Linked DNA regions of Homo sapiens. The protein of the gene in region 7 purifies or fractionates together with the protein of the main gene of each other region. This does not show direct contact. Each region holds a gene or a part of one and is shown on either strand. Other genes may lie near its edges. The genes, in order: GOLM1, BNIP1, MARCHF5, HOMER1, GOLM2, TXLNG and GRAMD2B.

Region 1 (4,267 bases), on a different chromosome or scaffold from region 7:
TGCTGTGTTTTTGTTTTGTGGCAAAGCATTTTCTTTTTTTTTTTTTTTTTTTTGAGAGACAGTCTCGCTCTGTCGCCCCAGGCTGGAATGCAATGGCATGATCTTGGCTCACTGCAACCTCCACCTCCCAGGTTCAAGCGATTTTCCTGCCTCAGCTGGAAATCACCTCCTTGCCTCACCTCCCAAGTAGCTGGAATCACAGGTGCCTGCCACCACACCTGGCTAATTTTTGTATTTTTAGTAGAGATGGGGTTTCACCATGTTGGCAAGGCTGGTCTCAAACTTCTGACCTCTGGTGATCTGCCTGCCTCGGCCTCCCAAAGTGCTGGGATTACAGGTGTGCGCCACCGCGCCTGGCTGTCCAAGCATTTTCTAATTTGTGTTGTGGTTTATTGTTGGACTCACTGGTTATTTAGGAGTGTGTTGTTTAATTTCCAAATATTTGCAAATGTCATAAGTTTCATCCTGTTATTGATTTATAATCCATTCCATTTCTATTAATTTACTTTGTGTGATTTTAGTTAAATATTTAAGTGTATGGAGGCTTGCTTTGTGGCCTGCCATTTGTCCATCCTGGAAAATATTGTGTGTGTGCCTGAGAAGCAGGTGTGTTTGCCCTTGCTAGGCTGAGGGTTCTGCAGATGTTTGTTTCGTCAAGGAGTATTGTGTCGTTCATGTCTTTTTTGTTGTTGATCTTCCGCCTAGGTATTTTATTATTCCGTAAATGCTTCCTCTCAGCAGAATCACTGCCCAGTTTTATTCTGTATTGACAGTACTTTCTGGGAGACCTTGACTCAACCTCTTGTCTTCTGATTTACGCCACATGACCAGGGCGTGACCAGAGTAGACTGTGGCGTTTCTCGGGGTCTTGGTTGGAAGGATATGGTGGTGGGATTGGTGGGATTCATTGCATTGGTAGGATTCTTTTACGGCTTCTGTTCACAGAGCCCTGCCCTGGCTGGCTGTCCTGTGCTTCTGTTTCAGCTCCAAGCCCTCAGTGAGCCTCAGCCCAGGCTGCAGGCAGCAGGCCTGCCACACACAGAGGTGCCACAAGGGAAGGGAAACGTGCTTGGTAACAGCAAGTCCCAGACACCAGCCCCCAGTTCCGAAGTGGTTTTGGATTCAAAGAGACAAGTTGAGAAAGGTAAGCAGAGCCCAGCAGTTGCCCTGTTCCCAGCTCTCCAGAGCCCCATCAGAGGAAGCAGTCCCAGCGAGCTGCTGAGGCAGTCAGTGAACCCGGCAGCGGCGCAGCCAGGAGCAGGGACGTGTCTCTCTGGGCCCCTGGAATTGGGGCTTTGGGGCTTCTCTGACAGATGTCTCCTCCTTGTAAACGAAGTGCCTTGTTCCTGGGCAGCTGTGTAGAGAAAGGCCCAGGCTGCACCTTTATGCAGGACATTGGTGGGCTTGTGGGACTCGGGGGAGGCGGCTGAGCCCCAGACACTGGGAACCAGGAGGCTGCTGTGTCTGTGAGCAAGCCCTGGGTGGGCCTGCCTGCCCTGGCTCCCAAGTGCTTGCTCCAGCGGACCCGATGATCAGGTCACTCAGCAGGATACCCTTTTCCCTTTGTACCTTGTCAAGGTAATTTAGTCCAGGTGTTTTTTTTTTTTTGTTTTGTTTTTTTTTTTGGTAAGCTACTTTTCCCTTTGTCGCGGTTCTGACGATGAGCTGCAGGCACAGAAAGGCCTGCAGTCTGTGGCTGAGGTCACAAAAGGAGCTACCTGGTTGTTCTCCTGTGTGCAGCCCACCCCACCCCCACTCCTTGGGAAGGCTCTGGGAATTGAGTGGCACCAGGTTTTGCTTTTTTTTTTTTTTTTTTTTTTAAATCAAATGCTGGCAAGGTCACAGCTAACTGTGTTCTGTGCACAGAGGAAACCAATGAGATCCAGGTGGTGAATGAGGAGCCTCAGAGGGACAGGCTGCCGCAGGAGCCAGGCCGGGAGCAGGTGGTGGAAGACAGACCTGTAGGTGGAAGAGGCTTCGGGGGAGCCGGAGAACTGGGCCAGACCCCACAGGTGCAGGCTGCCCTGTCAGTGAGCCAGGAAAATCCAGAGATGGAGGGCCCTGAGCGAGACCAGCTTGTCATCCCCGACGGACAGGAGGAGGAGCAGGAAGCTGCCGGGGAAGGTGGGTGTGAAGTTTCGGGGGCCGCTGTGGACTCCCTTCCACCAGACACCCAGCCCACCTCCATGTCCTTCCCAGCACCAACATATCACCCTGAATTTTACCAAACAGCAGTCCACAATTTGCCAATTCCTTTTCGTTTGAAGGTTTCTTATTCGTTATCAAGAGGGAGGCAGGAAGGAAGAGCAGCATATGCTCTAGAACTCGAGGTTTTAGATGCAATATTGGCAGGGAGTCGAGGGGACCTTGCAAGTGGATGGCCTGCAGATGGGTGCTTAGCATCAAGTGGACGCCCCCTCCTGGCAGGCAGGCCACATGCCCCATTTTTGTATGTCCACCGTCGTGCAGTGTCTGGTGCCATTTAGACAATCAGTGCCTAGTGAATGAATGAAGGAAGGAAGGAAGGAATATTGGGTAGATGAAGGTTAATGCATATGTGAACATTGAGAAAAAATGACATGTGAATCACTCCTTTTTGGTTTGGTTGACTCTTTTCTTTTTAAAGAAATAAAGGGTAGGAATTGGAGATCAACCGACTATTCCAGGATGTATTTCAGTCCCTTCAGATATGGAAAATGTCCTTCCCACCTGAGCCAGGAACACTTCTGAGGACATGACACCTGCGCTCTGGGGTGGACCAAGTCACAGAAGTTGGAGAATACACTTATTTGCAGAAGTTACCTTGATTCCATTTAAATCTAATTTTCACTTCAGTGTCTTACTGAAGAACGTGTCCTTCCAAGTTCCAGTTAAAGAATTGGATTTTGTCAGCCTCCCCCTAAGTATCCCTGCTCTGTCCTTGTGTTCCGTGCTCACCCAGCAAGAAGATGCTTGTGGTGTGTGAGGCGGGGAGATCTCACTGGCTCGCTCAGCCTGTGGCGCTCCAGTGTCAGACCCCTCAGCGGCTGGTCACAAAGCGTAACAAAGGTGGGCCTGAGATGCCACAGTGCCTGCAGGATGCACCTGCTTCTAGATGCAGGTGTGGTGACCTCATTTGAAGAAACGCGGTGGACACATAGGCCTGTGCAGTTTCCACCCCAGGCAGTGAGCCAGAGAAAGAGACTAGAGCTGCTTTTCCAGGTGTGCACTTTTAAAAAAGATTTTGTTTGGCCGGGCGCAGTGGCTCATGCCTGTAATCCCAGCACTTTGAGAGGCCGAGGTGGGCGGATCATGAGGTCAGGAGTTCAAGACCATCCTGGCCAATATGGTGAAACCCCATCTCTTCTAAAAATACAAAAATTAGCTGGGCATGGCAGCACGTGCCTGTAATCCCAGCCACTCGGGAGGCTGAGGCAGGAGAATCGCTTGAACCCCGGAGGCGGAGGTTGCAGTGAGCCGAGATTACGCCACCGCACTCCAGCCTGGGCGACAGAGTGAGACTCCATCTCAAAAAAAAAAAAAAAAAGATTTTGTTTACCAGCCTGCATACACATATAAAATATGTAAGTTAAACCCTTTGAGTAGGTCTCTTGAAAGCCTTTTGTCCTCATCTTCTCTGGCTGCTGCCCACTCCAGGGAAGAATAGAGTAATGGGTGCTCTCATGCTCTAAGTATGAGGGACACCTTCTCACGTGTCTCACAGTGGCAGCTCCATTTCCTCTCTCCATTCTAAGGAGATGCTGTCATTAGCTGTAGATATCCGTTCCTTCCTAAAACAGTGGCACCTTTCTTTTATCTTGAGTTGATTATCTCTTTAAAAAATTGAGATTTGGGTTGTTAGTTTCTCCATGTTCTGCCTAGAATGCACCCTTGTATTTAGGGCCATGCTGTCTGTAGATTCCGAGTCCAAGTGGAGTACACATAATGCATGTGCTTGTCCTGGAAGCCAGCCCTTGCGTCCCTACCATTTCCAGAGAGGCAGCAGACAGATCTGATTGTGAGCAAGTATGGCTAACCCCCAGCACTTGTGCTCTGATAGTCCTGTGACATCAAGACAGAAATGATGTAGCTTATGTTTTATGTGCTAATTTTACAGGGAGAAACCAGCAGAAACTGAGAGGAGAAGATGACTACAACATGGATGAAAATGAAGCAGAATCTGAGACAGACAAGCAAGCAGCCCTGGCAGGGAATGACAGAAACATAGATGGTAAGAATGGGGCCTACATCGGTGACGAGGTCACCTTTCATTTCTCTTTCCTGGTCC
Region 2 (4,267 bases), about 47 Mb from region 7:
TGTTAATATTAGTTGGTCTAAACCAACTCTATCACTGTATGGATGGTGTCATTTCATTTCATTGCCTTGAGAAAGGCCTTTCATCTGTTCAATGTCTCCTAGGATATCCGTGATTGTTCAGGACCCTTAAGTGCTCTTACTGAACTGAATACTAAAGTAAAAGAGAAATTTCAACAGTTGCGTCACAGAATACAGGTGGGTATTCTCAATTCAGTCAATGAAGGGGGCTCTGTCCTGGGTATATCCTCTGCTTGAGAGCCGTCTGGGTTCTTCAAACACCAGCTGATGGGAGCAGTAAACACTTAGACAGGGAGGGTGACTCTGTACTAACCTGCTCTCCAGGTAAAAACGAGAAACTTTTGGCCGGGCACGGTGGCTCACGCCTGTAATCCCAGCACTTTGGGAGGCCGAGGCGGGGAGATCACGAGGTCAGGAGATCGAGATCATCCTGGCTAACACGGTGAAGCCCGTCTCTACTAAAAATACAAAAAATTAGTCGGGCATGGTGGCAGGTGCCTGTAGTCCCAGCTACTCAGGAGGCTGAGGCAGGAGAATGGCGTGAACCCAGGAGGCGGAGCTTGCAGTGAGCCGAGATCGAGCCACTGCACTCCAGCCTGGGCGACAGAGCGAGACTCTGTCTCAAAAAAAAAAACAAGAAACTTTTGCATGCAGAACACTGCCAGCTGTGTGAACGAGTGAATGGCAGGAACACCATTATCCTTGGAATTTTTGAAATCCTGGGGCCACTTCAAATACTTTCTCTTCTCTGCCATTCTTTCTACCCTATTCATTCATTCACTACCTCAATCCATCACACTCCTGGGTTTTTTTTTATGCTGTTACTTTGCTCAGCATCTTCCTTATTTCAATAGTCACCAGTCACATCATATACACATTTAGTATGCCTGAATTCAAGTATGGTATATGTGCTGTCTCAAAAAACACTAGAGGGTGACAAGTAGCAGTTATGTTTGTTTGTTTTATTTATTTCACATTTTATTCTTATTACATTGGGCTGGGCAAAGAGTTGTGCACCACTGTATAGATCATGTTATTCTGTTGCTTTCATTTTTAAAAATGAAAATGAGGCCAGTAGTTTGAGAACAGCCTGGCCAACATGGCAAAACCCTGTCTCTGATAAATGCAAAAATTAGCTGGGCATGGTGGCACACACCTGTAATCTCAGCTACTTAGGAGGCTGAGGCAGGAGAATCGCTTGAACCCAGGAGGTGCAGGTTGCAGTGAGCAGAGATCGTGCCACTGCACTCTAGCCTTGGTGACAGAGCAAGACTCTGTGTCAAAAAAAAAAAAAAAAAAAAAATATATATATATATATATATATATATATATATATATATATATATATATATATATTTTAATAGAGATGGATTTTTTGCTCTATGTTGCTTGAGCTGGTCTTAAACTCCTGGGCTCAAGCAATCCTCCTGCCTCAGCCTCTGAAAGTGCTGGGGTTACAGGCATGAGCCCAGACTATTGTGTTGCTTTCAGACAGAATTGGGATTCAGCTTCTAATTGTTTCCAAGTTCAGAATCTAGATCAGAATCAGAGGATGAAGACCACTTGTGGGTCTGGGGGCTGCTGAGAGGAAACACGTATGGAGCTGACTATGGAGGGGTCATGTTTCAAGGCTGCCATCTGGGCATCCAAGGATCCTGCATGCAGCTCATGGGTAGAGGGGCCCACAGCAGCCCCTCAAAGTGAATAGGGATGGCACAGGCCCAGGGCTGGAACTCAGGAGTTGGAAGGATGACTGCATCTGCACACTTAAAAAGATGCTGTCCATCTGTATCCTGGAATCCTGTGTAGGCCCTCTCCCTGAGGACAGGAACAGGGTTGGCTCCTTGGCCTCTGTTTAGCCTCATGAGTAGTTCAGTAAAAGTCCTGCAAACTTGTCATTATCTGGAGACATTCCTGCCGGCTCCTCTTCATGCCCCTCTACTTGAAGCACTAGGCAGTTGCTTTATATTGTTCATGATTCTTCTTCAGTTATTCAAATTTGAGATAATTGCATTCTTTTAGGGAACTCTGGATCTCCTGGTCACTCCAAGGGTTGATTACTGTTCTGATGGTTTTTCTGGTTTCTTGGTTTCTTCTTCCTTCTTTATTTCCTGAGGGTTTCTAGTAATTTCAGTCTGATGTCTTACGTTCTCCATTTTTATTCCTGAGTTTTCTCCTGGAATTCTTCTCACTGCAGCCACAGGACCTAATGTTGGGTTGGCAGAGAACTAGCACTTACTCTGCCCTAGTGGGACCTAGGAGAGTCAGGAGGTACCTGAGTGTGGAAACATGCCTGCTCCTCTAGACTTCTGGAGGTCTCTTAGAAGTAGCAGTTTGAATAGTGGAGATGTTTCCCCTGCTGTACCTTCAGTGAGGGTGAGGTGGGTGTCATGGATCTGCCCATCTGTATTAGTCTGTTTTCATGCAGCTGATAAAGACATACGTGAGACTGGGAAGAAAAAGAAGTTTAATGGACTTCTGACATGGCTGGGGAGGCCTCACAATCATGGCAGAAGGCAAAGAGGAGCAAGTCACGTCTTATATGGATGGCAGCAGGCAAAGAGAGAGCTTGTGCAGGGAAACTCCTGTTTTTAAAACCATCAGATCTCATGAGACTCATTCACTATCATGAGAAAAGTGCAGGAAAGACCCACCTCTGTAATTCAATCATCTCCCACCAGGTACCTCCCATGACATATTGTGAGAGTTACAATTCAAGATGAGATTTGGGTGGGGACACAGCCAAACCATATCACCATCCCTGGATGGGTCTTGTGGCACCTGGTCTTGTGGTATTGGGGTTTTGTATTAGGCCTTTCTTGCATTGCTGTAAAGAAATACCTGAGGCTGGGTAATTTATTTAAAAAAATGGGTTTAATTGGCTTAAGGTTCTGCAGGCTGTATGGGAAGCATAGCAGTATCTGCTTCTGGGGAGGCTTCAGGAAGCTTCCAGTCATGGCAGAAGGCAAAGGGAGCAGGCATGTCACATGACAAAAGCAGGAGCAAGAGAGAGATTGAGTGAGAGCTCACTTACCACTAAGGGGATGACTTATGCCATTCATTAGGGATCCACCCCCATGATCCAAACACCTCCCACCAGGCCCCACCTCCAACACTGGGGATTACCATTCAACATGAGATTTGGGCAGGGACAAATATTCAGACTATATCAGGTCTAAAGACTTGAGCTTTTTTGGCCAGCACAGTGGCTCACGCCTGTAATCCCAGCACTTTGGGAGGCCAAGGCGAGTGGATCGCCTGAGGCCAGGAGTTCAAGACCAGCCTAGTCAACATGGTCAACCTCCATCTCTACTAAAAGTATAAAAATTAGCTGGGTATGGTGACCCGTGCCTGTAATCCCAGCTGTTTGGGTGGCTGAGGCATGAGAATTGCTTGAACCTGGGAGTTGGAGGTTGCATTGAGCCAAGATTGTGCCACTGCACTCCAGCCTGGGTGACGGAGCAAGACCCTGTCTCAAAAAAAAAAAAAAAAAAGACTTGTGCTTTTCATATAACATGGCCCCCAAAGCCCACCAGCAACTCTGTTGTTGCTTAACAGAGGAAGACAGTCTGTTCTAAAGCTGGTAGAAAAGCTGGCCAGTTGGACCCCTGAGAAACAGTATGTCTGTGTCCTGTGTTTGCCTACCTCAGAGATTTTCAAGGGCAATTTTGAAAATGTGTAATTTTTGCTATTGGAGTTAACTATATGATTTTCAGCAGCGTCACCATACCTAGCTGATCTCTTCCTGCCTTCATCTCCAGTACTGATTTAATCATCTTAATTTTTTATTTTTGAAAAGATGTTCCTTTTACATGTTTTATGTATGTGTCTGTCTATAAGTATCAACATTCAGTGAAAAGTCTCAGTTATGCCCCAGTTTTGTTTTTTGTTCCACTCTTCCAAACAGGTAACCACTTTTGTTACTGATATGTCATTCCAGAGTTTCTCTACTCAAATATTTAAAAAGACAAATTTCTTTTTTTTTAAAATTTCTTCCTTGTTTCTCATCTAAAAAGTAGCATACTAACACACAGCTTTTAAAAACTTTATACTTTTGTTTTTTTGTTTTTTTTTAAGACGGAGTCTGGCTCTGTTTCCCAGGCTGGAGTGCAGGTGTGATCTCTGCTCACTGCAACCTCCACCTCCTGGGTTCAAGCGATTCTCCTGCCTCAGCCTCCCAAGTAGCTGGGATTACAGGTGTGTGCCACCACACACAGCTAATTTTTCGTATTTTTAGTACAGACGGAGT
Region 3 (5,065 bases), on a different chromosome or scaffold from region 7:
CATATGCATCCAGGACTGTTCAATTCTATGCCCTTTCTCCTCTTAGCATCTGTCTCTCAGATGGGGTAATGAAATGACTTAAAACCAATATAATCCCCAAATGGATGCAAGGAAAAGACCTTTAACTCATTCTAGAGGATTCTAATCTTCTACTTCAGAAATTTAAGTTCTTAATATCTCAGAAGCAGTTTGTGTTCCCAACTCACTCGAATACACTTTAAGACATCATGGCATGAGACCACCCACAGATCTTGTCTAGTTGCTTAATTATACTCAGTGCAAGAGGCTTTGAGGGTGGGTGAGTGGGGATGTAGTTTAGTCATTAGAACATACTTAGAATATAGGCTAGCCTGTTTACAAAATTAGGACAAATTCTTCCATACAGTTTTTTTTTTAAATTCAGATTACTTTTACTTACAAAAACTAGTATCTCGATAACTGTGATTAAAAAAAATTATGTATGTACAGAATGTTTTGAGATTTAACAAAGTACACCTAGAGAACATAAAAATTCTTTATTTAACCTAATCCAGCCAGTATTGAGATAGTTTGCTATATTAAAAACAAGACGTTTAAAAAAATTACAGCAAAGTTAGCAAGGCAGTGACTAATTAAGTCACTAAGTTTAATTTTATATTCTTCACAGTCATTTCATAATCATGTAATGGTAAACAATATTTTCAGCCACTTTGGAGATAAGTTAACTTTTGAAAAGAATTCTAGTAGTCGTCATTGAATTTTATAAAAGAGGTTTAAAACATTAAAGTTTCCAGAAATAACACAGTAAAGAAATATGAAAATAAACTGGAAAATAAAATATACCCACCCATCCGAAAAATCTACATCATCTCTTTCATTTGTCCCCAATGCCTTTCTTTTACCTCTCCATTTACTTTTCCTAGAGTGCAAACAGATTACTTAGCAATTAAGAAACAACTACTGCTTTGTAGGGGCGATTTTGAGCCTAAGTGCTGCTGTTCCTTTAATCTCTCAGTTAATCCTAGAAATAGTCTTCTGAGATAAACATTATTTGCATTTCAAAGATTAAGAAAACTGCAGTTGAGAGAAAGTCAAATCCTTTAGCCAAAATCATACATACAGTTATTGAAAGCTGAACTATGATTTGAACCCAGGTCTATCCAACTTTAAGTCTGCCTATGCTCTTTTGTTGCTTCATGGTCAGGCAGGTCACCTTCCTGGGAAGACTGGCATGTGGTATTTCTCGAGCTAATAATAATAAGGCTCTTTAGGTTTAAAAGTGTTCAATTCGGGGCTAGAGGCCACTCTGGTCCTCAGGCACTTGCAGTTCCCTCCCCGCAACCCTAAAAAAACCCTCCCTCCTGCCCCAAAAGGATTAGAGTTGTTCCCCGGCCTTCATGAGCCCTAATACCTATAAAACCAAGCAGCTACTCCCTGTCAAGGGCATTAATGTAGTAAATGGGGAACTGTGTGTTTGCATAACTTTAGTAAAGGCTGCCTAAAAACTGTTCTATACAACAAAATTTTGCAAGATATGTGTCCATTTAATGTATCTTTCACATTGAAAACAAAAGCCAATATATTTTATAATTACAGCCTATAATCTAAGTTTTTAAAATATATAACCATAGATGTTATATTTCCCCTTCAGAACTGTAGTAGTGTTCTTAATAAGGCTCACTGTTAGTCAAATCTTCATCTCCAAATAATACAAATTTGAATGTTCAACAGTCATTCAAATAAACATCATATAACTCAAAATTAAGACATTCATACTATAGAAACCAGTCTTTAATTACTAAAGTTAACATATATTATTGCAAACTAACATAGCTCAATCTATATTTGCTACACTCCTAAAGTGGCCGCTTATCAGTAAGGGGAAACATTTATTATTGACATGCATTACTGTGAACAAGAAAATAAATAGGGTTTTGAAAATATCTCTTAAAAATTTAATTTTAATTAACAAAAATAACCATTCAGGTTGCTGAACATTAAAATGGCCAATCTATTGAAAATGGCTTCAATAATTGCTTTTAAAAATGAATACAAAACTAAACAGTGATTAAGGTGCTAGCCTCATCAATAGGACAATTAAAATCTAAAAACATTAGTGTTGATTTTCTATAATAAACTTAAGCCAAAAACAATGACCTCAATATTTACTTAAGACTTCTTGTTTTCATACTTTTCTCCTCATTAATATAAAAACAAAGAGCTCAAGGCCTCACCTTGGTTTATTCACTGCTGGTTTTCTATGTGCTGAAACTAGACTGTCAACTCTGTAAGAGCTTGGACCAAGTCTGTCTTGTTCACCACTATGTCCTACAGCACTCTGCACAGTGCCTGGGAAATAGGAGGTGATCAACGAATATCTCAATAACTGAATCAATGCAAGAGGAGAGTAAAATAACTTTATTTTTATTTTTGCAAATCATCCTCTGCTCAAACTACTATAAACTGGCAGCTGTAATTTCTAGAAATATGGGTTGAAAAAACTCCCAGAGATGGAAGGACCTGATGAAACACTGAAACACACAAATACACACACACACACACACACACACACACACACACACACGACTGCATGAGTCAAAATTACTTCATGAAGTATGAGATGTCAACATTATGTAAATAAAATTTAATATTGAAAAAGTGATCTGGAAGCCCTGTGAATTTTTACCCTACACATTTTGGAGGACATCACATGGGTTAAAGAAAACACCACAAAATCTCATTTGTTCAGATAATCATTTGAATGTTTACATACATTTTTGGTTATTTATTTATAACTAATTTAATTTACATTTCCTCATATTAACATATCCTCTTATTTAGTATGTAATCAAATTATGTCAGTGAGAAAAATCCTCATAGTACCTTGAGTTGCTGATTCTGAGAAAACACTAAACATGAACATGTACAAAAGAGGCATTTGAATAAAACAGCATGTGCATTTTTTTAATATTTGCACAGTTTGATCTTTGCATTTCTGTCTGGAGAAAATATGAACAAAACCCAGGTTTACCATGCTAAGATAATGGTTCATATGACTGCCATAAAAGTAGTACATACAAACAATGAAAACAAATCACATCCTTAGGTTCCATGATTACCGAGATGATTTCCCCTGCCCTAAGTGCTTTATTATATTTCTTAAAAAATATAGGAGCAGCAGCTTATCACAAGTCTCCACAAGTGCATTAATGATGGAATCAAAACAACACAACAGATTCATAAGGATGAGAGAACTGCAGAACAACCAGAAGTCAGTTTTATGCTTCTTCTTGTTCTGGATAATTCAGAATTTTGCGGTGTGCCTGTCGTAAATATTGCTGCTGTTTGAAGTAAACTTTAAATGCTCCTTTTATGGCAACAAACGCAATTCCACCCTAAAATAAAAAGGAAAATTAGCTTTTTATAATGCAGATTTAGAGAAACAGAGTAATAAAAATAATTTTATTTAGATCACAAAAGACGTAGGCTTTGATGCTAAACTAATTCAGATGACTGCAAATGAAACAGTTTTCTTTTTCTACTAGGAGATGAGATAGGGAGAGAGACAGACTATACGCTGTTACTACAGGTAACAGGGGACACAGATGCCTTCTCCATTATCCTTTCTGACTAGTCTTTCTTCCATGTAGTTCTACATATACTCTGATATACAAAGAAGAATGCTAGGGCACTATGTGCAGACTGCCACTGTTGGGAGCAAGAAAGGCCAAAGGGATCGTGACCAACTCAGCATTCCACTGGAGGCTATATGACCAAACAGCAAACTGTTTATCATGAATGCAGGATGTGAGTAAACTCACACTGAGCCTGCCACCAAAGGGTTTGCTGGGGGCCATCACTCCCTGGTGCAGGGCTCCTTGAACTTATCTACTGGGAAATCTAGCGCCTACTGTTCAAATGATGCAGTCTCGCAAGCCTGCTGTGAACCAAACTGCCAAATGGACTGACAATTACCCGACAATCACCCCTGCTTCTCACTATCTCTTTTGCCTAATAAATACAGAGGGCTGTGTAAAGCTCAGGGCCCTTGTCCACTAGAGGCAAGGTGCCCCCTGACCCCTTCTTCCAAATATACTCTCTTGTCTTTGTCTTTTATTCCCACGTTTGCCCCCTTTGTTCAGTCCTCCAAGGTCCGTGCAGGTTACATGCCACCAGAGGGGAGAAGTGGGAGTAACAATAATAGCAAACAACATGAGTGCTTACTATGTGCTAGTACTTATACAATCCTCACAATAATCCTGATTATTACCATCACCATACTACAGGAACAAAAAGTCCAGACATTTGATTTAGATTTCACAGCAAGACAATTTCTGTGATGGGATTTGAACCAGGTGGTCTGATCGTAAAGTACTGTAATCCCACTGGCAAGAGGGACAGGTGTGATGATTCATGCATATGCCAGGAGAGAAAGCACCTACAACATAGTTCCAAAAGGCCAGAACTGCTGCAGTGGTTTCTCCTCTTTTTATTTCCACTCAAGCTATTGAATGATAGTGAGGCTCAAATAGAGGCTTAATGCATAGGAGCCACAGACCGAATATTTATACAGTTCCCCACCTTTTAAAAACAAATACACTTCATTCTCTTTTGCAAGGTAATATAAGTAATGTTAAAGCCGTCTTACCAAGATTGTCCTTTGTAAATTAGAGTTAACACTACTGAACATCAATTTACCAACTATTGTAGCAATAGTAGGAAAGACAAGGGCTCCACACAAGATTCGAGTAGCAGAGACATGATCTGCTAAAGGATTGGCCTCAGCTGGAATTCGAGGAACAGGACAACCTATCCCTAGAGGAAAAAAATGCAGTGCGTTAGTGCTAATAAATCAGAAGAGTTAGACTACCTTCAAACATGGCTAAAAAAGCATGTTATTGTTCTTCAAGATCAATTTGGTATGCACTTTACAACCACAGTTCAGTGCCTTACCTGGAAATATACTATTTAAAATTTGTAGTTTATTCGAGTATTTGCGCCACAGTCTAAGCACATAGTCCTCCCAGCGAATCATCTTGCCTAATATCAGCATGACAGGAATAGTAGGAAGTCCAATTAAAAGGAA
Region 4 (4,267 bases), about 47 Mb from region 7:
GTCTTCTTCTATTTATGACACTGGAATTATATCAGAAGTCAAGTCTTTAGAACCAGTTTGTAGGCCTAGCCTTTCCTATGAAATCAGTTTATTGTAGCAAATGTTTGTATTTTTGACATTTTAAGGTCCTGAATAAGATGAAATAAATCAAAAACAATTTCAAAAGAAATACTACATTACATATCCCAAACCTTATGACATTTAAGCATCCTCATATGTTTTCATTAAGGAATAACATTGTACTTTAGGGTTTGACACACGTAAAAAATGTAATACATTGTTAGGTTTTTTTAATAGATGTTTTTCAGGCTATAATGTTTATTCCTTAAAAGAGAATGGGTGGAAACTCTTCTGTAGATAACTGTATCTGTCATAATGAAGGTTGGAAACATTCCACGTTAAGCCTGGTACTTGAGTACTTTTTATATTTCTTCACTTGCCAGGTTTTCTTTACTAGGAATATTTTGGTAAAGTATTTGTGTTTTTTAGTATTTTGAGGTTGTCTTTGAAAACATTCTTAGGGCTGGTCACAGTGGCTCACGCCTGTAATCCCAGTACTTTGGGAGGCTGAGGCAGGTGGATCACCTGAGGTCAGGAGTTCAAGACCAGCCTGGCCAACATGGGAAACCCCGTCTGTACTAAAAAAATACAAAAAAATTAACTGGGCATGGTGGCGTGTGCCTGTAGTCCCAGCTACTCAGGAGGCTGGGGCAGGAGAATCGCTTGAACCCAGGAGGCGGAGGTTGCAGTGAGCCAAGATTGCGCCACTACACTCCAGCCTGGGCAACAGAGCGAGACTCCATCTCAAAAAAAAAAAAAAAGAAAAGAAAACATTCTTAGACTATAAACCCTACAATAGAACTGAGTCTTGCTGTCCCTTCAAGGTAACAGTAGTTGGTGTAATGGATAGAATTTTCTTTTTGTTTTATTTTAGTTCAGCAATCAGCAAACATTGGGAGGCTGAACTGGCTACCCTCAAAGGAAATAATGCCAAACTCACTGCAGCCCTGCTGGAGTCCACTGCCAATGTGAAACAATGGAAACAGCAACTTGCTGCCTATCAAGAGGAAGCAGAACGTCTGCACAAGCGGGTAATTTCAGGGCTGATGTCTATAGGGATTTAGGGCTAACAGGTTTTCTTGATCAGAAGAAATTTGCATGTAGATTCAGCACAGGGATATCTTCTAGTTCTAGGATGTCAGAACATAGATATGGGTTGTATGATATGCATTTGTTTGATTAAGAAAAATATTTTCCATAGTTTAATGAGAATGAAGAATATACGCCTTTTGAAGTCAACAAACCATGTTGATTCCCCATATTATCCATGGGGACTAGCAGTAATGCACAAGTACATAAAAGCACTAATGTATTAGTGCTAGTTGATTAGTACTGACATGGTAGTTAAAGTGTGTGCTGAGAAAAAATTCAGGGAGTAGTTTAATTAGAATTTTAGCTTTGGGTGTTGACGGTGAAGCGGGAATGCTTTTCTCCTGAGTTGTCCTGGGGAGGGGATTCTCCATTTCTGGTTTACAAGACCAGAGTATTCCAGAGTGCGAATTCCAGTTCTGCCGGTTATTATCTGTATGATCTTTGATAAGTTATTTCCTTCTTCCAGCTCAGTATTCTCATCTGTAAAATAGGAATAATAAGTACTCTGTACAATTCCTGTGAAGATTAATTGAATACTTAATTGGCATGTAGTTGCACTGAGTCAAAAGTATGTATTCTGTACAATTCCTATGAAAATTTGTTGAGACACTTAAGTGCCGTGTAATTGCACTGTCTCAATGAGTTGCAGTGAGTCAATGAGCTGCTTTTATTATTTTCTTTTTAAAGAAGGAACAATTTGAAAAATACAAGTAGAAAATTATTAACTTTGGTAATATTAGAGATTTGGTGCAGAAAAAGAAAACCAGAAATTTCAATACCATTAATATCAGAAGCCCAGATAATTACTTGTAAAGTGTTTTAATGCTCTCAGGCCAAGAGTTTGAGATTAGCCCAGGCAACATGGCAAGACCCCATCTCCATTAAAAAAAAAAAAAAAAAAAATCTTTTTTCTTTTTTTTTTTTAATTAACCAAGCATGGGGACACACGCCTGTAGTCCTAGCTACTTGGAATGCTGAGTGGGAAGGATTGCTTGAGCCCAGGAATTGGAGGCTGCAGTGAATTATGATGGCTCTACTGCACTCTAGCTTGGGTGACAGAGCAAGACTCTGTCTCTAAAAAACAAAAAAAAAAAAGAAGAAGTTTTTTTTTTTTTAATTCAAGGCATAGAAGTGCTTCACCCAACAGATGCCTTTAATTTCTCCTTTTAAAAAAAATTCCAAGCTGGGCACATTGGCTCACACCTATAATCCCAGCACTTTGGGAGGCTAAGGAGGATGGATTGCTTGAGCCCAGGAGTTCAAGACCAGCCTGGGCAACATGGTGAAACCCCATCTCCACTAAAAATACAAAAATTAGATGGGTGTGATGGCATGTCCCTATAGTTCCAACTACTTAGGAGGCTGAGGTGGGAACATCACTTGAGCCCAGGAGGCAGAGGCTAAAGTGAGCTGAGATCACGCCACTGCATACTCCAGCTTGGGTAACAGAGCAAGGCCTTATCTCAGAAAAAAAAAAAAAAAGAAAGAAAAGGAAATGCAGTTGAGACAGAGTGGAAATGTTAGAAACTTGAGTAAATGTTATTCTATCCTGTGTGTAAAAATTAACTTAAGAGAGGTGGGGGAAAGGAGAGTTGTTTAATGGGTATAGACTTACAGTTTTGCAAGTTAAAAAAGTTCTGGAGATCTGTTTCACAGCAATGTGAATATAAATACTTAACACTATTGAACTATACACTTAAAATGACTAAGATGATAAATTTTATGATATATGTTTTTTACCACAAAAAAAAATTTATGACAATTGTCATAGCCAGAAAATATTAAGGAGCTATCATGTCTCCTTATTGTGTAATCTCTGCCCTTAAGAAATTTTCTCTTTAAATAGTCAATTGAATATTAAAGAACTTAAGAAACATAATATATTTATTTACTCACATATTTTCAGTTTCCATTGTGCTTCTTTCCTGTAGATCTGAATTTCTATCAGGTATTGTTTCCCTTCAGCCTGAATAACCTCCTTGAGCAGTTTTTGTACTCCAAGTGTACTGCCAACAAATTATCTCCACTTTTATTTAGATAAATTTTGTCTTGATTATAAGTTACATTTTACTGTTTTTTCAGAAAAATGACTAGTCATTTTTAATTTTGTATTGGACATTGCAAATGAGATGTTGTAGAGACCACAGATTTTGTTATTTTTGAATAATGTTGAGTTTTTGTTTCAACAGGCAGTTATTTGGAGATTATCTTGAATTTGTGGAGTTGTGTACTTATGCTTTGTTAGAATTCATGTATTTCAATTTTGCTGTAACCCTAGGGTAAATCACATTGTCCTAGGAAATCTTTATCTCTAAGACATAACCCTTTCCAAAGTTTCACTGCAAAGCTTGAGGTATTTACCAAGGCCCTCTAATTTAGCAGGGACTAGCAGAACTTCAAACTGTCATCTCTGTTGAGCACCATCGCAGTTTAGTTCTTTCAGCCTTCCAGCTCTTTTCCTACTCCTAGTTGTGCCAGGTGTTCTGCAGAGTCCTAAAATTCTCAGGCTTCTCAGAGAAATAAGACTATGGATTTCTGCTTGTTCAGTCAAGCAATGCAGCCAGACTGCAGAGTACCTTCAGGCAAAAAGATGTGGAAATCACCCAAAGTGACTGCTTTCTTGCAGTCTTTTGCCCAATTTGGTTACTCACCAGGTCCTTCAAACAGTTGACTTTTACATTTTGCCCACAATTTGCAATTGTTACCTATAGGAAAGTTACTCCAATAAAAACTATTTCATCATTATCAGAATTGGAACTCCCTTTAAGGAATTTATTATATAATGAGACAAAACAAATACACATTAAACAATAAGTGAAATAATTCCCAAGATTTTTGAACAGATGCTTGGTTTTGTGAACCAGAGGAGAGCCTTGAAGACTTGAGCAGATAGGAATGGCTTTCTGGAGAAAGCACATGCTGAGCTAAGAGTTAAGGGTTCGGTTAGGTCCGAGTGGTTTTCAGAGGCAAGAGAGGACATTCTAGTTAAATCAACAAGTTGGGAATGAATATCACTTGTTCTTAGGACAAGGAGATTTGCCTGCTTTTAGTTGGAAGTACTCACTGAGTATCTTGGGCAGTGTGGATGGTTGAGAAGGTTGGGGCCAATATACAG
Region 5 (3,537 bases), on a different chromosome or scaffold from region 7:
ATCCCAGCTACTTGGGAGGCTGAGGCAGGAAAATTGCCTGAACCCAGGAGGCGGAGGTTGCAGTGAGCCAAGATTGTGCCATTGCACTCCAGCCTGGGAAACAAGACTAAAACTCTGTCTCAAAAAAAAAAAAAAAAAGAATTAGAGTATAAAAAGTTTTCTGCTGAATATCTGTTCTGTTCTTACTGTGGTTATGCTATGCCACATATAACCTGTACAACTATTTTGTCCTGTTTATCTATTTGTGGAAATAAGTCGGCTCAATAAAATGTGAAATATACATTAGTTTGCTTTAGATGCAAAGATTAGCTGTTTTTGGCTTAACTGTATCATAACCAAAAAAGTCTATACCTTGATAATACAATATGAAAAAGTTCACATATGTACATGGGTACATTCCTTCATTAAAGTTTTTCCTTAATTCTATCTCAATGTATCTTTACAACTGATACAATTCGTCTTTACAACAAAAGTCAGAAAGGACAAAGTAGAATGATTTCATTTTACAGCACTTTAGGTTTTCTGAAGCATTCCTTTAGGACTTAAAGGACATCATTGAAATGTTGCTTTCCATAGTCTGCAGGATCCATTTGAAGCTCTCGTTCTTCATCATCTGTAAGTAAAATAATTTTGTATCAACATATTATTTTTTAAATCACTGCAGAAATCCAATTAATGTCTCAGTTTTTCATAGCCTTAAGGTAGTTTCCTGCTTGTTATTTTACACCTAGTACAAATAGTGTTCTATTTCTTAGTTGCTTGGCTAAAGAGTGAAAAGTATGTGGAACTATTTTGCAAGATTAATTTTAACAAATCTTTAGAAAATAGACATAGATGACAGACAAACAGAAATAGAGCCAGATAGACATAACTAGTAAAACTTTAGGAACGCACAAATATTGAGGAGTTAATATTTTTATATAAATGTAGTCTTTTTTTTTTTTTTGAGACCGACTCTCACTCCGTTGCCTAGGCTGGAGTGCAGTGGTGCGATCTTGGCTCACTGCAACCTCTGTCTCCCAGGATCAAGCGATTCTCCTACCTCAGCCTCCCAAGTAGCTGGCACTACAGGCACCTGTCACCATGCCTGGCTAATTTCTGTATTTTTAGTAGAGACGGGGTTTTACCATGTTGGCCAGGCTGGTCTCAAACTCTTCACCTCAGGTGATCTGCCCACCTCGGCCTCCTAAAGTGCTGGGATTACAGGCGTGAGCCACAGTGCCCAGCCTAAATATATTATTTCTATATAGATGATATTTAGTCCTTTAAATTAAAGCTTTGGTAGAAACATTTCTGTACACATTTTCAGGCTTTTAAACATCAATTTTTTTTTCTAAATTATAAAAGTATCCAATATTAGTATTTTTAAAATTATAAAAGACAGAAAAATAAAAGTCACTCATAATCCCAACATTTAACATTTTAGTGAATTTCTTTACGTCTCTGCAAAAGTAGCTTCCTCTTGGCTTCCTAAATGGGGTATAACAACCAAAGTTTAACCTTTTCTTAACTAAACAGAAAAAAAAGATTACTGTTACTAAAATCCTCAAAGCCTCTTTGAGTGGCTGTATTAAATTACTCCAAATAGTGCTATGGAGTTTGATTTATTTGGCTATTACAGATTTTTCTGGCTCTTTCTTGGCTATGAGTTGTGATCACTTTGCCTTCTTGTCAATTTACCTGCCAATAGCAATCCTTCTTTTCTAATTTTGCTGCAAATTACAGGTTTTGAAATGAGACTGCTGAAGAGGTTTTTTTGTTTGTTTGTTTGTTTGTTTTTCTGAGACAGAATCTTGCTCTGTTGGCCAGGCTCAAGTGTAGTGGTATTATCATGGCTCACTTGCAGTCTCAACCTCCCGGCCTCAAGTAATCCTCCCACCTCAACCTCCCAGGTAGCTGGGACCACAGGTGCACGCCACCACACCAGGCTACATTTTGTATTTTTTGTAAAGACAGGGTTTTGCCATTTGCCCAGGCTAGTCTGGAACTCCTGGGCTCAAGTGATCCACCGGCCTCAGCCAAGAGTATTAAAATTATATTAGAACAAGAATGAAAAGTATTTTGATGAGAGCCTTGGAGAGTCCCTTTGGAGTACATGGATTTTTTTTTTTTTTTTTTTTGAGATGCAGTCTCATTCTGTCGCCCAGGCTGGAGTGCAGTTGCATGATCTCAGCTCAATGCAACCTCTGTCTCCTGGGTTCAAGGGAATCTCCTGCCTCAGCCTCCTGAGTGGCTGGGACTAAAGGCGCTTGCCACCGCACCCAGCTAATTTTTGTATTTTTAGTTTCACCATGTTGGCCAGGCCGGTCTCAAACTCCTGGCCTTGTGATCTACCTGCCTCAGCCACCCAAAGTACTGGGATTACAGGCATAAGCCACCGCGCCTGGCGTAGAGTACATGGATTTTTATGATATCTTTTGGCTTCTCTGCAGACTTAAAAAATCACTTTTCTTACATTCTGGGTCACATACTATTACCCAATAGCTTAATTTTTGTTAATATAATTTAAAGAAAGTCATACATTGGAATCTAAATTCATATGTATACTATAGTTTTCTAAAAACTATTACTTTAGGTATGAGAGGTTTTAACACTCTAAAACTTTCTTCTTTCAAAAATGCAAAACAGGCCAGGCATGGTTGTCCAAGCTTGCAATCCCAGCACTTTGGGAGGCAGAGGCAGGCAGATCACTTGAGCTCAGGAGTTTGAGACCAGCCTGGGCAACATGCTGAAACCCAGTCTCTACTAAAAATACAAAATTTAGCCAGGCATGGTTGTGTGTACCTGTAGTCCCAGCTACTCAGGAGGCTGAGGTAGGAGGATTGCTTGAGCCTGGGAGGTGGAGGTTGCAGTAAGCAGAGATCACACCACTGCACTCCAGCCTGGGTAACAGAGTTAAACCCTATCTCAAAAAAAAAAAAAAAAAAAAAAAAAAGTCAAACAAACCAACTTTCTTTTTCAACAACTTTCCTGTTAAACTTACAGAAATTTTCATTTCTAGAATTTCAGGTAACCATTTTGCACCTTTTTTTTTTTTTTTTTTTTGATACAGGGTCTCAGTCCCATCACTCAGGTTGGAGTACAGTGGCACAATCTCGGCTCACTGCAGCCTCAACTTCCCAGGGCTCAAGGGATCCTCCCACTTCAACTTTCTGAGTAGCTAGGACTACAGGCACACACCACATGCCCAGCTAATTTTTCCTTTTTTTTTTTTTTGTAGAGACAGGGTTTCACCATGTTGCCCAGGCTGGCCTTTAACTCCTGGGTTCAAGCGATCTGCCCACCTTAGCCTCCCGAAGTGCTGGAATTACAGCTGTGACCACTGCACCCAGCCTACCCCATATTCTTAACAAATGATCTATCTTTAAATAGTATAATCCACTAGGTATGATAATCCCAAATCTGTCTTAATATGTGTTAAAGCCTGAAATTATATCCATTTCACACTTTTACTTTATATACATGCTAATCAATTATCAATGAACTCTTTACTTAAAAAAAATTATGTATATATTTTTGAGACGGAGTCTCACTGGG
Region 6 (4,267 bases), on a different chromosome or scaffold from region 7:
TTAAGTGACAGATCTGCCAATCAGTGGAATCCAAATGGGTGGTGAGGGACAACTGGTATAAACACTTTCCCTTGACCTTCATTGCTCTGGCTCATTCAGAAGCCTCTGTAACAGTATTTAATAGACTACTTCCTCATTTAATTCTCAGAACTATCTTATAGGCAGGTATGATAAACAAGCAGCCTCAGTGATAAGGTAATTTAAGTACGATGTCCACGGTCAGGAACCTAGGAAAGGAAAGCAGAGACTGAATCCTTGTCTTTCTCTGTAAAGGGCATACTCTCTAAAGAGCATGCTCTTCCCAGGTTATGTTAAAAATAAACAAGTGCGGCCGGGCACAGTGGCTCATGCCTGTAATCCCAGCACCTTGAGAGGCCAAGGCTGGAGGATCCCTCGAGCCCAGGAGTTTGAGACCAGCCTGGACAACATGGCAAAACTCTGTCTCTAATAAAAAATAATAAAAATGAACAAGTGTAGTGACGGTCACACAACTCTGAATATATACTAAAAAAAAGTGAGGCCGGGCACAGTGGCTCATGCCTGTAATGCCAGCACTTTGGGAGGCTGAGGTGGGTGGATCACCTGAGGTCAGGAGTTCAAGACCATCTTGGCTAACATGATGAAACCCCGTTTCTACTAAAAATACAAAAAATTAGCCGGGCACGGTGGCGCATACCTGTAATCCCAGCTACTCGGGAGACTGAGGCTGGAGAACTGTTTGAACCCGGGAGGCAGAGGTTGCAGTGAGCCGAGATCGCACCACTGCACTCCAGCTTGGGCAACAAGAGTGAAACTCCGACTCAAAAAAAAAAAAAAAAATTGAATTATACACTATAAATGGGCAAACTGTATGGCATGTTACCCAAACAAATTACTAAATAAATGAAGCCAGAGAAATGATGGAGTTCTAAGGAGGGATCATAAATTGGAGGCAGGGTAAGTTCTAGGAGTTGTCCTAACTACTACCTGGGAGCAGGCAGCTAAAGGATCCAGAGTAACTGTCACAGCATGTAAGAGCACAAAGAACACACAGAACCATTAGTAGGTAAATGACAAGAAAAGAGAGGCAGACTAGTGCTAAACTAAGGGATGAGGGAACCTGATCTCCCCCACTGGGGAAGAAACCAAGAATGAGTAAAAGGATCCGGGAAAGGTCTACTTTGGACACAGCTTCTTTAGTCTCATAACCTAGCAGTATAAGTGCTAATATTGTACATTTACTGGTAACATCTATATTAGACTGTGTACATCATTTGCCTTTTAATAAGTGAATGTTAATGACTGCATTAAATTTTGCATTTAACTTCTGTGGCTATTTCTTTTATAAAAATAAATTATTATTTTTATTTTTTTTTGAGACAGTGTCTCGCTCTGTCGCCCAGGCTGGAGTGCAGTGGCGCAATCTCGGCTCGCTGCAAGCTCCGCCTCCCAGGTTCACACCATTCTCCTGCCTCAGCCTCCCGAGTAGCTGGGACTACAGGCGCCCACCACCACGCCTGGCTAATTTTTTGTATTTTTAGTAGAGATGGGGTTTCACCATCTTAGCCAGGATGGTCTCGATCTCCTGACCTCGTGATCCGCCTGCCTCTGCCTCCCAAAGTGCTGGGATTACAGGTGTGAGCCACCGCGCCCAGCTAAATTATTCTTTTATATAAATAAAGGATGCTGGATTCCATGATTTGCAAAATCACTTCTAGTTCTAAAACTGTAACTCAATGAATATCTGCAATCTGAAAGATACTTGTATTAGTGTAAGTACCTATTTCAGCAGCAAAAGAGCAGGACATTCAAAGATTTTAATGCCCAAAGCCACTGAAATATACTTGGACCTGATCTATTTACAGGACAGGGGCTGGGTCACACAACTAGCATCTTTAAGCCACAGACTCTTAGATGTAAAATGGTCCTTTACTTTTATGGGTTACCTAAGTGAACATCCCTGTCCCAATTTTATGAAGTCATCCTTCCCTAGATCCATATGGACCAATCCTGATACACCTCTGAAACATCAAGCCTTCTTTTTATTTGTCTTACTTCCCCAGACCACTTCAACTCTTTGCTAACACCAGGTTATATGAACTTTATTTACAAGAAGTTAAAGAGAGTCTCTCTAAACTCTCTACCTTTCAATTTATTCAAATTACACTTGGAGGTACTGTTGCAGGAAGTTGTAGCATGGCATACCTCCTAAATCATAAATCTCAAGGTTAACCTAGGGCCTAGGTGAATGAAGCAAAAGATATTAAGAGGCTCAAAACTCCTCTGGTCCCCAAATTACAATCAATTTTCGATATCCCCTAATCATCCAACTCCATCCCTCATAATTTGTCTTCGTTTAGCAAAAACTATTACTATTACTATTTTATCTACCAGCATGTTTTGCTCACTTTCAACTAGGGGCACTTATGTGACCTTTACTATCTGAGGAAATGTTAACATGAGAGATACGAAATATGGACAATGGCTTTGGAGCCCAAAGAGCCGAAACTCTGAATATACCACTTAGCATCTCCTGTGTGGCCATAGGGAGGCCAACCTGTCAGTTTCCTTATCTGTAAACTGGGATGTACAGTACTTACCTTCTTAGCGCCATAAGTAGATATAATAGGTATAAATTGCTGATAGATATAAACTGCTGACACATAGCAGAACTGTTATAATATTTGAATGAAGACATTTTACAGGCTGCGTGCAGTGGCTCACGCCTGTAATCCCAGCAGTTTGGGAGGCCAAGGCAGGAGAATCATGCTTGAGCCTAAGAGTTTAAGACCAGCCTGCGCAACATAGGAAGACCCTGTCTCTCAAAAAAAAGAAAAAAAACAGCCAGACATGGTGGCACACACACCTGTAGTCCTAGCTACTAGGAAGGCTGAGGCAGGAAGATCACTTGAGACCAGGAGTTCAAGGCTGCAATAAGCGTTAACTACACTCCAGCCTGGGCAACACAGGGAGATCCTGTCTCAAAAAAAAAGAAAAAAAAAAAAGATATTTTACAAAATGCATTCATTCTCACTTTTAATATGGCCCATTTTGCAATCCAAAAGACCCATAAAGAAATGAGTTTCTAAGCTACTGGCACATCTTTCTTGCCAAACCATTCTACTACCTTGAGAGTAGGGAAAGAAGAAACATGAAAAAAAAAAAAAGTAGCCAGTAAATATTACTCAGGACAGACTATAAGGTGGGAAGTAGGAGATAACAGAGGTCATTCTAGGGACGTTTTGGAAATGCAACACAGAATGCAAATCAACACCCTAAGCAATAAATGCTAATACAATTATTTTGATAGCATAGGAGGAAAACACCAGTTATTTTATGTATCTTTTCCTTCAAGTAATAAAATGTAAGTATTTATAAGTGCCAACAGAATTTCAACTAGGAGGTAGATTCAAACATAAAAATGTACTCCCAGGGTCTTAATGGATCTTAAAGGTCACCTTACCTATTTCTACCCTCTTCTAGAAATGTCCCATCTCAATGTTGATGAATATGATATTAAATTTGTATATTATTGTATACTTTTTTTTTTTTTTGACACGGAGTCTCCCTCTATGTCACCCAGGCTGGAGTATAATGGCACGATCTTGGCTCACAGCAACATCCGCCTCCCAAGTTCAAGTGATTCTCCTGCCTCAGCCTCCCGAGTAGCTGGGATTACAGGCATGCATCACCATGCCCAGCTAATTTTTGTATTTTTAGTAGAGATGGGGTTTTACCATGTTGACCAGGCTGGTCTTGAACTCCTGACCTCAGGTGATCCACCTGCCTCGGCCTTCCAAAGTGCTGGGATTACAGGCATGAGCCACTGTGCCTGGCCTATACTTTTTATTTTTATTATTATTATTATTTTTTAGAGACAGGATCTCACTCTCTTGCCCAGGCTAGAGCAGTGGCCCAATCGTGGCTCACTGCAACCTTGACCTCCTGGACTCAAGTGATCCTTCCACCTCAGCCTCCCAAGTAGCTGGAACTACAGGCACATACCAATGTGCCTAGCTAAGTTTTTTATTCTTCATAGAGACGGGGTCTCCCTGTGTTGCCCAAGCGGGTCTCAAAATCCTGGCCTCAAGCAGTCCTCCCGTCTCGGCCTCCCAAAGCACTGGGATTACAAGCATGAGCCACCATGCCTGGCCCATACTTTATAAATACTGACACACCCGTTATATTAACTAAAAGTTATTCATAATCACATTAGAACCAAACAAGAGGAATTAGGGGGAGGGCAGCAGGAAGAGGAGGAACAGGCAAACAGATTTCTTGAGGTATT
Region 7 (4,267 bases):
AAAGTCAAACAGGTCAGAACTTACTTTGCTTCAGTGGTTCCTCCGTTGGGACACTAAGAAACAACTTGTGAAAGTGCATATTGGCCTTGTACTACAATGAGAACAAAATACAAGCATCACCATTCTCACTTTCTTGTGAAACATCACAAATTCAACTTCAACAACAAATTTTCCCTCCCTTAATAGTATCTTTAGGAATTCCTTCTCACTGATCTTACAGTCTCTGACACAAGCCTTCAGTAAAACACAGTGAAAGTCTGGGCACACAGTTTCATTTTCTAACAAGTTTAATGCTTTGCTGGTTGGATATAATGATGCAGCTGCTGGTCAGCCTACTGCCGAGGTAACAGGGCTGGACAAGGATGTCCCTGATGAGAAATGGGATGAAATTCTAAGGAATCTCATTAGGGAAGATACTGGATCCCAGGTACTAAAGGTACCAGTGAGTACTCTCAGAAGAGTACAGTGGTTCAAAGCTTTGTAGTCAGGTAAACCTGAGTTGAAGTCTTGGCTGTAGTGGCTCTAGCTCTTGTTGTGTGACCATGGCTTAGTCACTTAATCTCCCTGGGCCTTGGTTTCCTCTTCTGTACCAGAGGGCAAAAACAGTGCCAGCCTCAAGGGATGCCATGAGGCTTAAATGGGATAATACATGTAAAGGACCTATAGTCTAAGGCAACATATGGCCACTCTTCCTACTGTATTATTGTGAAGGCATTTCCTTAGCCAGTGACAGGAGTAGGATGCAGTAGTAGGCTACTGACAAGACAAGTAGGATTTCATACAAAGACTTCACTCTCCAGGGCAGCAGAAGGCCCAAGACCATGAAAGCTGTAAATCACTTCATCCTCAAGGGATCTGTTTTCACAACTGTGACAATAACAATGGATAGCCAGCAATTTACAGCTTGTAAAACACTTTCACCTGCATCATATAGCTATTAAGAGTAGAACTGTTAGCTGGATGTGGTGGCATGTGCCTGTAGTCCTAGCTACTCGGGAGGCTGAGGCAGGAGGATCTCTTGAGCCCAGGAGTTCAAGCCTGAAGCGAACTATGGGGTAGAACTCGATCCTCCCTCCACAGGATCAATCTGCCTCACGGGATGCTTCTGAAGAAAAATTCTTATAAGGAGAATGGGTAGGAGGCCCTGGATGGCTTTATTATCCAAACCAAGAGTGGTCTCAATGGCAAAACTGGCCCTGTTTTGCCATAAAGAACTACAGACCAGGTCATCAAGATGATAGATGGTCCCTGCAAGTCAACTATTTTACAGATAAACTCCTTATAGAAAGATACCTTGATTAAAGCTAGGTGTTCTATGGCTTCACTGAGCTTTTGTTTTCAATGGCTACAGTGAGCAGTGGTTGCACGCTTGATTTAAAATATGCTAGGCCATAAACGCTTCAAAAATGTCAACGTAATAAATGGCAAAAAAGGTAGTGGGGCTGCTTTCAATTAAAAGGGACATAGCAGGCTGAGTGCGGTGGCTCATGCTCGTAATCACAGCATTTTTGGGATGCAGAGGTGGGTGGATCGCCTGAGGCCAGGAGTTTGAGATGAGCCTGGCTAACACGGCAACACCCTGTCTGTATTAAAAATACAAAAATTAGCTGGGTGTGGTGGTGCACATCTGTAATCCCAGCTACTCAGATGGTTGAGTCATGAGACTCACTTAAACCCGGGAGGTGGAGGTTGCAGTGAGCCAAGATTGTGGCACTGCACTCCAGCCTGGGCAACAGAGCAAGACTCTGCCTTGAAAAAAAAGAGAAAAGACATAGCAATTACATGCAGTATGTGACTCTTGATTGGATCCTGAAGAGGAAAAAAACACCTTTATAAAGGATATTTATTACTGGGACTACTATGGAAATTCAAAAGTGAATTTTGTATTAATAATATTTTAATACATTTCATATTTAAATTTCTTGGGTGTGCCGATGGTTTTTGGTTTAGCTCTTAGGAAACACATATTCAAGTATTTAGAGGGGTGAAGAATTAAGAAAAACCCCAAACTCCTGTCCCCAGCACATGCATCACACTCTCTGATGACATAGAACTAGGCTTTGTTTCCTATCTGGGTATATTTTAAAGCAGAACCAAAATTAGTTCTGGAGAAGAATCCTGACCCTGTTCAAAGGTCTAACTCCTCTGTGTGCAGTTGGCTGGCCTACTACTATTCAGGCAGGTGCCTTATCAGACTCTTCAATTTCAGTACAAGGATGTCACAACTCCCCTTGTCCTGCCAATTATTGGATAAGCACATGACTTTGTGTTGGTCCCTGATCTCTGGGTATCTGTCAGAGTTCGAGGCCACAGCATGGAACTCACTACCATGCAATGTGCTGAAAAATGAGTTGTGGAATATAACGTTGCTGAAAAATGGACTGGAGGAACTGCTGCCTGTTTGTTCTTCTAAATTCTCTAAACTCTATACCTATATTAGTCTTGACCAGCAGGAAGGTGCATACTTGGGTTCCTTCTTGTCACTGGCTTCAGTAGCCCTGTCACCCTCTAAGACAATACAAATTCCATTCTCAAATTACCTGGCTGGAAGATGAAGACTTTTTTCTTTCAGTCTTAGGGTCATTTTTGCTTTCTGTTTTACAGTCGTTCTTATCACTTGCTAAAGAGGCACCATCAAAACTGGATTTTGACCTAAAGAAAGAAAGTCCAGGGTGTCTATAAGATAATTTTTTTTTGAGACAGTTTTGCTCTGTTGCCCAGGCTGAAGTGCAGCAGCATGATCACGGTTCACTGCAACCTCCCCGTCCAGGACTCAAGCGATCCTCCCACCTCAGCCTCCTGAGTAGCTGGGACTACAGGTGTGTGCCACCATGCCCAGCTCATTTTTTTGTAGAGATGGGGTTTCACCACGTTGCCCAGACTGGTCTTGAACTCCCGGACTTAAGCAATCTACCTGCCTCGGCTTTCCAAAGTGCTGGGATTACAGGCATGAGTCACCACACCTGGCCTATGAGATACATTTTTCATTAATTTATTGTAATAAATCTTGATTATTATACTATCTTCTAAGAAAACCTGACATTTGTTTTTCTTTTCTGGATATCAAAAATCATTCATGATACTCTGAGAATATTTACACAGCACATGCTTTAGGACACTGCAATGATTTCATCAGGCTGTAATCAAAAACTGTAGAAATAGTAACTTACAGAGGGTGAAATAACAATCAAGTTGTGAAAATAATTACATCATTTTAAAACGAAACTATTTTAATCAGTATTTAAAAAGGAGTACTTGAGGCAAATTACTAAATAATATTGCAGCTATAGTTCAATCAAAGAATATTTTTGTTTCAGAATTCCACTAATATATAACAAGTATTAATTGAGTAGGGCATTGTATTAAATGTCTTGGGGCCCATAACACAGTTTGTATCCTTAAGGCGCCTGTGTATGCATGCATCAAACACTTTTTTAAAAAGGCAGTACATGATTTAGCACCAAAAAAAATACATATTATAGGAGTTAGGAGAAGGTATGGAGCCAATAAGTCTAACAGGAGGTAAGAGAAGAGGAAAACAGGCCGGGCACAGTGGCTCATGCCTGTAATCACAGCACTTTGGGAGGTCAAGGTGGGCGGACCACCTGAGGTCAGGAGTTTGAGACCGGCCTGGCCAACATAGCGAAATCCCATCTCTATTAAAAATACAAAAATTAGCTGGGCATGATGGTGGGCGCCTGTAGTCCCAGCTACTCGGGAGGCTGAGGCAGAAGAATCGCTTGAACCCGGGAGGCAGAGGTTGCAGTGAGCTGATATTGCACCATTGCACTCCAGCCTGGGGGACAGAGCAATATTCTGTCTCAAAAAAATAAAGTTAAATTAAAAAAAGTAAATAAATAGAAGAGGAAAACAGTAGAATAATGTGGGCTTAAAATGCTGGGCCTAACAGGATAAGCAAGAATTGGGTATGAGGAAAAGAGACAAAACATCCCAGAGTGGGAATACAATAAAAGTGAAATCAGAATAAAAAAAATGAAACCACAAAACATGTTTGAAGCCAAGTCTTCCTTTTTCCTGTTAAGCACAGAGGTCAGAGCTCCAGAGTTTCCTTCTAAGATGATTCTAGTCCTGGTTTTCCATTTTAGTGGATGTGTACATTTGTACGTAACTTCAACCCTACGGCTAAACGCAGTCATTTCAAAGTAGAATGCATAGATGATTTTTGGAGTTATATATATGAATAAGTTTTATGATTATGAAGTTGCTTTAATGTTTATTGGGAGGAAACGACACACAAAATCCATGA

The links.
Region 1: the proteins of GRAMD2B (region 7) and GOLM1 purify together in Homo sapiens (affinity purification with mass spectrometry; 3 studies listed by BioGRID and IntAct, with this or other methods). This does not show direct contact.
Region 2: the proteins of GRAMD2B (region 7) and BNIP1 purify together in Homo sapiens (affinity purification with mass spectrometry; 3 studies listed by BioGRID and IntAct, with this or other methods). This does not show direct contact.
Region 3: the proteins of GRAMD2B (region 7) and MARCHF5 purify together in Homo sapiens (affinity purification with mass spectrometry; 3 studies listed by BioGRID and IntAct, with this or other methods). This does not show direct contact.
Region 4: the proteins of GRAMD2B (region 7) and HOMER1 purify together in Homo sapiens (affinity purification with mass spectrometry; 3 studies listed by BioGRID and IntAct, with this or other methods). This does not show direct contact.
Region 5: the proteins of GRAMD2B (region 7) and GOLM2 purify together in Homo sapiens (affinity purification with mass spectrometry; 3 studies listed by BioGRID and IntAct, with this or other methods). This does not show direct contact.
Region 6: the proteins of GRAMD2B (region 7) and TXLNG purify together in Homo sapiens (affinity purification with mass spectrometry; 3 studies listed by BioGRID and IntAct, with this or other methods). This does not show direct contact.

The regions. Positions count from the first base shown.
Region 1 is NC_000009.12:86,033,225-86,037,491, reverse strand, and holds part of GOLM1 (Golgi membrane protein 1), read left to right. Parts: intron 1-984; coding exon 985-1,144; intron 1,145-1,866; coding exon 1,867-2,124; intron 2,125-4,096; coding exon 4,097-4,210; intron 4,211-4,267.
Region 2 is NC_000005.10:173,146,764-173,151,030, forward strand, and holds part of BNIP1 (vesicle transport protein SEC20), read left to right. Parts: intron 1-102; coding exon 103-195; intron 196-4,267. UniProt on the Homo sapiens protein: As part of a SNARE complex may be involved in endoplasmic reticulum membranes fusion and be required for the maintenance of endoplasmic reticulum organization. Also plays a role in apoptosis.
Region 3 is NC_000010.11:92,349,400-92,354,464, reverse strand, and holds the end of MARCHF5 (E3 ubiquitin-protein ligase MARCHF5), read right to left. Parts: coding exon 4,933-5,065; intron 4,795-4,932; coding exon 4,628-4,794; intron 3,375-4,627; coding exon 3,258-3,374; 3' UTR 501-3,257; downstream 1-500. UniProt on the Homo sapiens protein: Mitochondrial E3 ubiquitin-protein ligase that plays a crucial role in the control of mitochondrial morphology by acting as a positive regulator of mitochondrial fission and as an important regulator of immune response.
Region 4 is NC_000005.10:79,398,723-79,402,989, reverse strand, and holds part of HOMER1 (homer protein homolog 1), read left to right. Parts: intron 1-934; coding exon 935-1,091; intron 1,092-4,267. UniProt on the Homo sapiens protein: Postsynaptic density scaffolding protein. Binds and cross-links cytoplasmic regions of GRM1, GRM5, ITPR1, DNM3, RYR1, RYR2, SHANK1 and SHANK3.
Region 5 is NC_000015.10:44,410,412-44,413,948, reverse strand, and holds part of GOLM2 (protein GOLM2), read right to left. Parts: intron 614-3,537; coding exon 543-613; 3' UTR 1-542.
Region 6 is NC_000023.11:16,792,365-16,796,631, reverse strand, and holds part of TXLNG (gamma-taxilin), read right to left. Parts: intron 1-4,267. UniProt on the Homo sapiens protein: May be involved in intracellular vesicle traffic. Inhibits ATF4-mediated transcription, possibly by dimerizing with ATF4 to form inactive dimers that cannot bind DNA. May be involved in regulating bone mass density through an ATF4-dependent pathway.
Region 7 is NC_000005.10:126,468,062-126,472,328, reverse strand, and holds part of GRAMD2B (GRAM domain-containing protein 2B), read right to left. Parts: intron 2,653-4,267; coding exon 2,541-2,652; intron 92-2,540; coding exon 25-91; intron 1-24.